Homo sapiens: one gene and its partner. The protein of the gene in region 1 purifies or fractionates together with the protein of each later gene. This does not show direct contact. Each region holds a gene or a part of one and is shown in the gene's direction. Other genes may lie near its edges.

The links.
Region 2: the proteins of DUS1L (region 1) and THUMPD2 fractionate together in Homo sapiens (co-fractionation; one large-scale study listed by BioGRID). This does not show direct contact.

What each region holds. Positions count from the first base shown.
Region 1 is NC_000017.11:82,062,771-82,067,348, reverse strand, and holds the start of DUS1L (tRNA-dihydrouridine(16/17) synthase [NAD(P)(+)]-like), read left to right. Parts: upstream 1-1,544; 5' UTR 1,545-1,736; intron 1,737-1,834; exon of another isoform or gene 1,835-1,995; intron 1,996-2,279; 5' UTR 2,280-2,289; coding exon 2,290-2,526; intron 2,527-3,114; coding exon 3,115-3,223; intron 3,224-3,830; coding exon 3,831-3,881; intron 3,882-4,375; coding exon 4,376-4,488; intron 4,489-4,578.
Region 2 is NC_000002.12:39,769,064-39,772,872, reverse strand, and holds part of THUMPD2 (U6 snRNA (guanine-N(2))-methyltransferase THUMPD2), read left to right. Parts: intron 1-1,232; coding exon 1,233-1,368; intron 1,369-2,753; coding exon 2,754-3,163; intron 3,164-3,681; coding exon of another isoform or gene 3,682-3,809. UniProt on the Homo sapiens protein: Catalytic subunit of the THUMPD2-TRM112 methyltransferase complex, that specifically mediates the S-adenosyl-L-methionine-dependent N(2)-methylation of guanosine nucleotides, most probably at position 72 (m2G72), in the U6snRNA of the major spliceosome.

The sequences.
Region 1 (4,578 bases):
ATACATTTTAGGGAGACATGAGACATCAATCAATATATGTAAGATGAACATAGCGGCTAGCTGCGGTGGCTCACGCCTGTAATCCCAGCACTTTGGGAGGCCAGCGGATCACCTGATGTCAGGAGTTCGAGACCAGCCTGGCCAACATGGTGAAACCCCCATCTCTACTAAAAATACTAAAATTAGCTGGGTGTGTTGGTGGGTGCCTGTAATCCCAGTTATTTGGGAAGCTGAGGGAGGAGAATCGCTTGAACCTGGGAGATGGAGGTTGCAGTGAGCCGAGATCACGCCACCGCACTCCAGCCTGGGTCAGAAAGCGACTCCGTCTCAAAAAAAAAAATTGGTTCAGTCTGGAAAGGCGGGACAATTTAAAGCAAAAGCCATCGGGGAGGGAGCTTCCTGGTCACAGATAGGTGATACACAAACGGTTACATTGTTTTGAGTTTCTGATTAGCCTTTTTTTTTTTTCTTTTCCTTTTTGATCAGTCTTGCTCTGTCGCCAGGCTGGAGTACAATGGCTTGATCTCGGCTCACTGCAACCTCCGCCTCCCAGGTTCAAGCGATTCTCCTGCCTCAGCCTCCCGAGTAGCTGGGACTACAGGGGCGCACCACCACACCTGGCTAATTTTGTATTTTCAGTAGAGACAGGGTTTCACCGTGTTGGCCAGGCTGGTCTCGAACTCCTGGTCTCAATGTGCGCCACCGCGCCCAGCCTTCTGATGAGCCTTTTCAAAGGAGTCAGTCAGATATCCATCTATCTCAGCGAGCAGAGGGTGACTCTGAATAGAGCGGGAGGCAGGTTTGCCCTGAGCAGCTTCCAGCCTGAGTTTTCCTTAGTGATTCCGGGGGCCCAAGAGATTTCACATGTTTTAGGTACTGAATGTCCTGGTTCAACTTCGGGCTTCGCTCTCAGATATGGAAAGCTCTGACAAAGCTGCTTTTTACATCTGTTGGGTCTCAAATGCCTTCAGTTTAAAATAACCTTCACATCCACTCTGGGGTTCCCAGTGGGTCCCCACAGCTCGAAATAACCCAAGGAGGGTCCACGGCGGGTAGGAAAGTCGATCGAAGGCTGGCGGCTGCGGAAACCCAGGGCGGGCAAGGAAGGTCCCTGGAGGGTGATTTTCCGCAACGCAGCGGCGGAAAGTGAGTGGCTTTCAGAGGCGGCAGGTGAGTGGGTTCGAGGCAGGGCTCTGGGGCCGCTTTAGGATATAACGGGATGAAGCCCCCAATGCGAACTTGGGGGCTGGGCAGCGCAGGGCCTCAGCGCCCACGGTCTACCCGCGGCCCGGGCCTTATGTGCGCCTCAGCGAGGCCCAATTTCCACATGCCTCGTTTCCAGCGAGCTGTCGGTGAGTCCCGGCGAGCCCCGACCCCTCTCTAGCCACGGCCTGACGGGTACGGTGGTGACCTCAGCCTCTGACCTCCGACCCCGCGCCGCGACCTCTCGTCGCCGGTCCCCTCGGAGCCGGGCGCGGTTTCCGGGGAACGCGTTTCCCGCCGCACCGTGGGCCGCCCGGACCGCGCAGGACCGGGCACCTTCCGGTGGCGGCGCGGAGCCTTGGGCCCGGCTGCGGCCCGGCGGCGGCCCCGGCGCGGTGCGGGCGTTCGCGGCGCCCCGGGAGCTGCAGGGGCCCCGGGCGGCGGCGAGGCCGGAGAGGGGCGGGCCCGGGACACCGGCACCCGGCGCCCTCGGAGCCAAAGGCGCGCGGCGGACACGGCGGGGCCCTCGCGCGGTGAGGACGCGGAGGCGTGTGGGCTCCTGTCACTTCACACAGCAAACGCTGCCCGCCGCGTGGCTCCGGAGGAGTCTCGCGAGGGGCGCCCCTGTGGCGTTTCGGGCCAGCCGGGCCGCCTGGCCGGGTGCGGAGAAGGAAGCTCTGCCCTTCCCCTGGCCCGGCGCGGAGCCGATTCTCCCGGGAAGGGGCCGGGGGTCCTAACTTCACCGCCGGGCGGCCTGCTCAGGGCCAGGCCCGCGGGGACGCTGGCGTCAAGGTTTCTTCCCCCTTCACGCCAGTCCCCTACCAGGCCGACATCGAGTCCCGCTCCCCAGGGAGGGTCAAGTCCCAGGGGTCCAGCGGCTCCCCCGAGGTCCGCTAGGAGGTGGCGGCACTGGAGTGGCCGTTCTCCAGCCTGCACCGACCCCCGCCTTTAGTGCCCCCGCGTGTGACCCAACGGTGGTACTGGAGCGGCCTTAGAAGGGTGACCGCTGCCTCTGAGTTGAGTCTTAAGCCCCTCGTTGGGCCTGGCTGAACCCCGGGTCTGCGCCTTTCCCCCAGCCTGGAGACGATGCCAAAGCTGCAGGGCTTCGAGTTCTGGAGCCGCACCCTGCGAGGGGCCCGCCACGTCGTGGCCCCCATGGTGGACCAGAGCGAGCTGGCCTGGAGGCTGCTGAGCCGGCGCCACGGGGCACAGCTCTGCTACACGCCCATGCTGCATGCCCAGGTCTTTGTCCGCGACGCCAACTACCGGAAGGAGAACCTGTACTGCGAGGTGTGCCCCGAGGACCGGCCCCTCATCGTGCAGGTGCGCAGGAGGGGCTGTGGCCGCGGCCGCGGTTGGGTTCCCGGTCCTGGAATGCCTGGGGAAAAACCCTTCTCTCTGTGGCGGGACATCACTTTCAGCCTTTCCAGAGACAGCTCAATTCCAGGAGGAGAGGGAGAAGGTGGCACCAGGCATGTAGAGTCCACGTAGCCACAGCAGTGATTCCTGTGGTGGAGCCAGGGCTGCCAGGTGCACCTGCCAGAATCCAACCCCATTCTCTAGGAGTGGCTCAGGCAGCCTGGGTGCTGTGAGGTTTGCAGCCCTGCTGGGGCCTCTGGATTGCTGCCTCTCACACTCACACTCCCTCTTCAGAACCAGTGGAGATGGCTCTGCTCTTCAGAAGTCAGTGATTGTGGCTTCTGCCACAGTTCAGAAGAAAATCTGTAAATCCGGGTGGCTTGGGGACTCCTCCCGGCTTTGTCATATTGTAAGCCTCCGCAGGACAGAGCACCCTCCTGCAGTGAACCTGGGCCCACACCCTCATGGGGTCACACTGGACCTCTCGTAGGGCTGGGCAGCAAGGGACTAGGGCCTGGCTGGGCCCGTGGCTGACTCCTGCATCTTCTCCAGTTCTGTGCCAATGACCCGGAGGTGTTTGTTCAGGCGGCTCTCCTGGCTCAGGATTACTGTGACGCCATTGACCTGAACTTGGGCTGCCCACAGATGATAGCCAAGAGAGGTGAGCTCCATGTGGAGCATGGGGGCACCTGGGGCAGGGGCCAGAGCCAGCTCAGTGCAGCCCCAGGTGTGGTGAGCTTGGAGGACGGCAGGCCCTGCCTCTGTCGTGACAGTGGCTCAGGCTGGAGCCAGCTGTCCTCTGTGCTCCGCCTCTGGAGGGTGGCTGTCCTCAGGCCTTGGGGGCTAGGGGCCGAGCCCTACTGGCTCTCTCTTCCCTCAGGGAGCTCCCTCTGCATAAACATGATTGCTGATACAGGGTCCCCATTACCCCCTTGCACTGCTGTGTGTGGGGCTGAGCCTGCTACCTCACCGGGCCCCTGAGGAGGTGTTACTTGGTTCCAGACCGTGCAGGGTGGGGGTTCCATTCAGCACCTTCTGAGCTTAGGCAGCTGGGCAAATAGAGCCCCTGAGTCTGATGCCGACAAACCACTGCTCTGACTGTCCCACTGCCCCAACTGGAGACACTGCTGGTTCTGGGGACCTGTGTCCCGCCTGACAGGGCAGCTCCTGGCCTGCGTGGATGCAGGAAAGGGTGCAGAGGGGGTGCAAGGCTTCGGCCCCACCAGCCTTAACACAGGTGCCAGCCAGGCCATGCTTGCTCCTTGCAGGTCACTATGGCGCCTTTCTGCAGGACGAGTGGGACCTGCTCCAAAGAATGAGTGAGTTGGCTGGGTGGATGGTGAAGGACCCCCAGAGACCCTCAAGAGGGACACATGGGCACTGTCCACTTGGTTGGGGCTCAGGAGAGGACAGGCGTTGGCAGGAGTTCTCAGCATCACCCTGGGGCTTCCTGCCCACAGCAGCCTCTCTGCTGGAAGGAGGTGGCTGTGAAGTTGCCTGTCCTGCACCACCCACCCCTTAAAACCAGACAGTAGGTGCCAGGGCAGAGTCCTTGCTCGGGCCCAGCCCCAGATGTCCTGGGAGACAGAGCCGGCCTTGGCCCTGCTTGTTTGAACTTCGGAGGGCCGGGGGTATGGCGGAGGGAGCCTGCCCAGCAACCTGAGGGAGACACCCAGATGGTGGCCCGGGCTGCCTCCCAGCCTCCCGGCAAAGCTGCCTGGGCTCCGCTGTCTGCAGGGCCCTGGGCTCTGGGGCTTGGCCGCTAAAGTGGGAACACCATGGCCCCCTCAGAAGCTGCCTCTCTTCTCCCCAGTTTTGCTGGCCCACGAGAAACTCTCTGTTCCTGTCACGTGCAAAATCCGTGTCTTCCCGGAGATTGACAAGACCGTGAGGTACGCCCAGATGCTGGAGAAGGCCGGCTGCCAGGTGAGCCCTGGGCTCGCGGGGGTGTCATGGGCCTCAGCTGGGCCTTTGCGCAGAGGACATAGCTGAGGCTCTTCCTGTGTCCAGACACCG
Region 2 (3,809 bases), on another chromosome or scaffold:
ATCTTGACAGATCCAAAACAAGCATAAACCCTTGGAGTTCAAGTACCCATGGATGGTAGCTGCCTTAACACACAGGAAACCCCACATTCCCTGGTGTCTGTGTTCTAGGAGATTATTTAGAACCATGTTATTCAATTGGTGGCCACTGCTAAAAAGAGAATTCCAAGAAAGCCCACATCCATCCTGGACTTAAGAGGGTTGGGTTGACCCTAAAAGAGTTAAGATTCCACTGGTATTGAGCACCATTTGTCACAGCATGTTAGGCTTCCTGTGAGTCAGTGCTCTTTTCATTTTCCTTCTCTTGCCACATATCCATCCTGTCTCCAAAACCTGTTTCTGTTTGATGCATATGTCTTGCTTCTATTCATTATCTAGTTTCTGCAGCCAAGTATCTCATCATTTCTACCTTAGTAACCTACTTCTCCCTCTAGCATCACATTCTACACTCAGTCCTTTATGCCTCTTCTGGAGTAATTTTTTCTGCCAGCTAATTCAGTGCTGTCACAGTTTTCATCAAAAGTCTATAATGGTTGACCATTACCATTCGTGGTACTCAAAATTTCATGACCATTTGTCAAGCTGGCCTAAACTACTTTATCCATCCACCTGACACTATCAATCAGCATAATAAAGCAAATGTTGCTTACAGTTTACTTCAGCCAGGTTTTCACCCCCACTTCCGCATCTGCCCCTTGTTCTTTTGTTAGAATCCTTCTTCTCAAATCTTACAGGATTCTTTCCCAAGACTCTTTGTAATGTCGGCTTTCATAGTCATTGCTACTTAGTGTACTTACAGCTTGTCAGTGCATTATAATGTTAAAACTTTTTAGTTTTCTTCTGGATTTAATTCAAGTTATTGTCTTATAAATCTTATGTTTTAATGTGTATGTCAGTGTGTGTCTGTTATTATTCAGGATATATGTTTTATGCTTCCTGGTAGCCTACAGGTAGGTCTTCAATAAATATCCATCTTGGGCTAGACACCTAATTTGTCCAATACATTATACCTTTCTTTTGTCTACTTTTGGTGGTGATCGAATCTACCTTAGAGGGTGGTTATAAGGATAAGGAGGAAAATACTTATTCAGTGTTCCTAGTACAGAGCCTGACAAATAGTAGATACTTCAGAAATGGTTATTTTTATTTTTAATTTAGATGCTATATCTTGAGGGAAAAAATATGGTTTTTTCACTGACACTGGACTACATTAAAAGCTGTTTTTCTATTTCTAGGTTGAATATATTTCAGGAAAGGTTTTTTTCACCACCTGTTCTGATTTGAATATGTTGAAGAAATTAAAATCTGCAGAAAGATTATTTTTGCTGATTAAAAAGCAGTTTCCACTTATTATTTCTTCTGTAAGTAAAGGTATGGCATATTCATATGCATGTTGCTTTTACCCACATGATACATTGTACTCCAACATTTTCTGCTTGATAATATGTAGCCATTTTACACTTTAATATTCATTGACATGTGTGGGATCATTAATTATGTATTTTTCTGTATTTCCTGAATATTATCACCTGATTGTAGTAGAATATTTCTTCTCTTTGCAACCTGCGTGCTGCCTTTTTAATGAGATTTTAATGTCCTAAGCCACATTTCTTCTTTGAGAATTATGATCAGGTACCTTCTCTAGAGATATATATGGTCAGTTGCATTTATTTGGATTTAGAAACATGAACTAATCCAAAATGCATTCTTTTAATAGTAAATCAGTGAAAATCATCACCTTGTAAATTTTAACTGTGTGATATAATTGGAAAAATACTGCATAGTAAAAATTTATATTTCTAGGACCTTAAATGTTTTCGATAAACTTATGCCCACTTACCAAGCATTAGAGGTAAAGGGGGCATAAGAGATTCCTTGTCCACTCTCTAAATTTTATAAATATGCTGCTAAAACAACATATGGATCTTGATAAAAGCAGCAAAACATGGTCAGACACTGCAGGATTAAATGCTGCCGTAAACTTCAATTTGAATTACGTAAGAGATCATGTATTTATAGCCTATAATAAACTATTTTAAGAAAGATGCAAATGGCAAGAAATCAAGACCAAGCAGAGAAAATTGTTTTAAAGCAAATCCCAAAGTATTATACTGTGGGATCAATATAATTCCTCCTAGTACTCTACACACATTCATCTTAAAGAAATACAGTAATTTTGGATCATCTTGATGACTGTGGTTCATCAAGAAGAGATTAAACTTTGCTGAGCATACTGGCAGTATGCTAAGCTATAAATGGGTTGTGAGTTACTTTATGGAAACACATTATAATATACTTATTAATATGGTGTGGGCTAAAATGTAACAGGCCCAAGATTCAGCTCCTCTGTTTCTGAGCTGAGTTTTTCAGTTTATTTTTTTCTTATAAAAACTTAATTTTTATAGGGAAGATCACCATTATTTCAAAGATTGATAAACACTCTAGGTCTATGTATATATTGAAGAGATACATATATTACCATAGCACAAATAATCTTTCTAGGGTATTATATGGTAATTCTATAGGAATTTTAACACAATACGGATGCTATATATGCAATGTAAGAATGAACTTTATTCTGCACAATATTCTTATGGTAAATGGAATATGAACTCCAAATGAAAGTGAAGTTATTCGTGTAGCAATTTAATAAAACTTAATTCAAGGAAATAAAGGTAATTGAGTTTGAGGGTGATGATTGTAATAGATGGTCTTTAAAGCTTCAATAGAGGATCAACAAGATTTTTCTTATTTAGGAAAAATATTTAATGAAATGCAAAGACTTATAAATGAAGATCCAGGAAGTTGGTTGAATGCCATTTCAATTTGGAAAAATCTTCTTGAACTTGATGCAAAAAAGGAAAAACTTTCTCAGAGAGATGATAACCAACTAAAAAGAAAAGTGGGAGAAAATGAAATCATTGCAAAGAAATTAAAAATAGAACAAATGCAAAAGATAGAAGAGAATAGGGACTGCCAGCTGGAAAAACAAATAAAAGAAGAAACTCTGGAGCAAAGAGATTTTACCACTAAAAGCGAAAAGTTTCAAGAAGAAGAATTTCAGAATGACATAGAGAAAGCAATTGATACTCATAATCAGAATGACTTGACTTTCAGAGTATCTTGTCGCTGCAGTGGAACTATTGGAAAGGCCTTCACTGCACAGGTATGCTTGCATCCTAAAGTGGAGTCTGTCGCCCAGGCTGGAATGCAGTTGCACAATCTGGCTCACTGCAACCTCCACCTCCCAGGTTCAGGTGATTCTTTTGCCTCAGCCTCCTGAGTAGCTGGGATCACAGGTGTGCGTCACCACACCCAGCTAATTTTTGTATTTTTAGTAGAGACAGGGTTTCACCATATTGGTCAGGCTGGTCTGGAACTCCTGACCTCAAGTGATCCAACCACCTCGGCCTCCCAAAGTGCTGGGATTACAGGCGGGAGCCACCATGCCTGGCCTGGGGGTCCCATTTTTTAAAGAATTAATTATTCTTTAGATTTAAAATGAGATGCAAACCTCTCACAGAACAAATAACTAGCCGCAGACAATTAGTTCTTATGGAATTAAATGTCTTTAAAACTACATTTTCCTTTTAATTTTTCCTCAGATGTTTAAGAGGAATGGTATGCCATTCCAAGTAATGACTTTCTTATACTTTCTGCCTAAAAATTTCCTTAAATCTACAGATGTCCTTTGTATTTGGAAATCCTGATACCATAGTCCTCAGCTTTTGGGGTTTCTCTTCAGTTCAGCTTTGTGCTTATTCAGTGGCTACTCTGCACAGGTCCTGTACATGGGATTGTCACCAGGACCT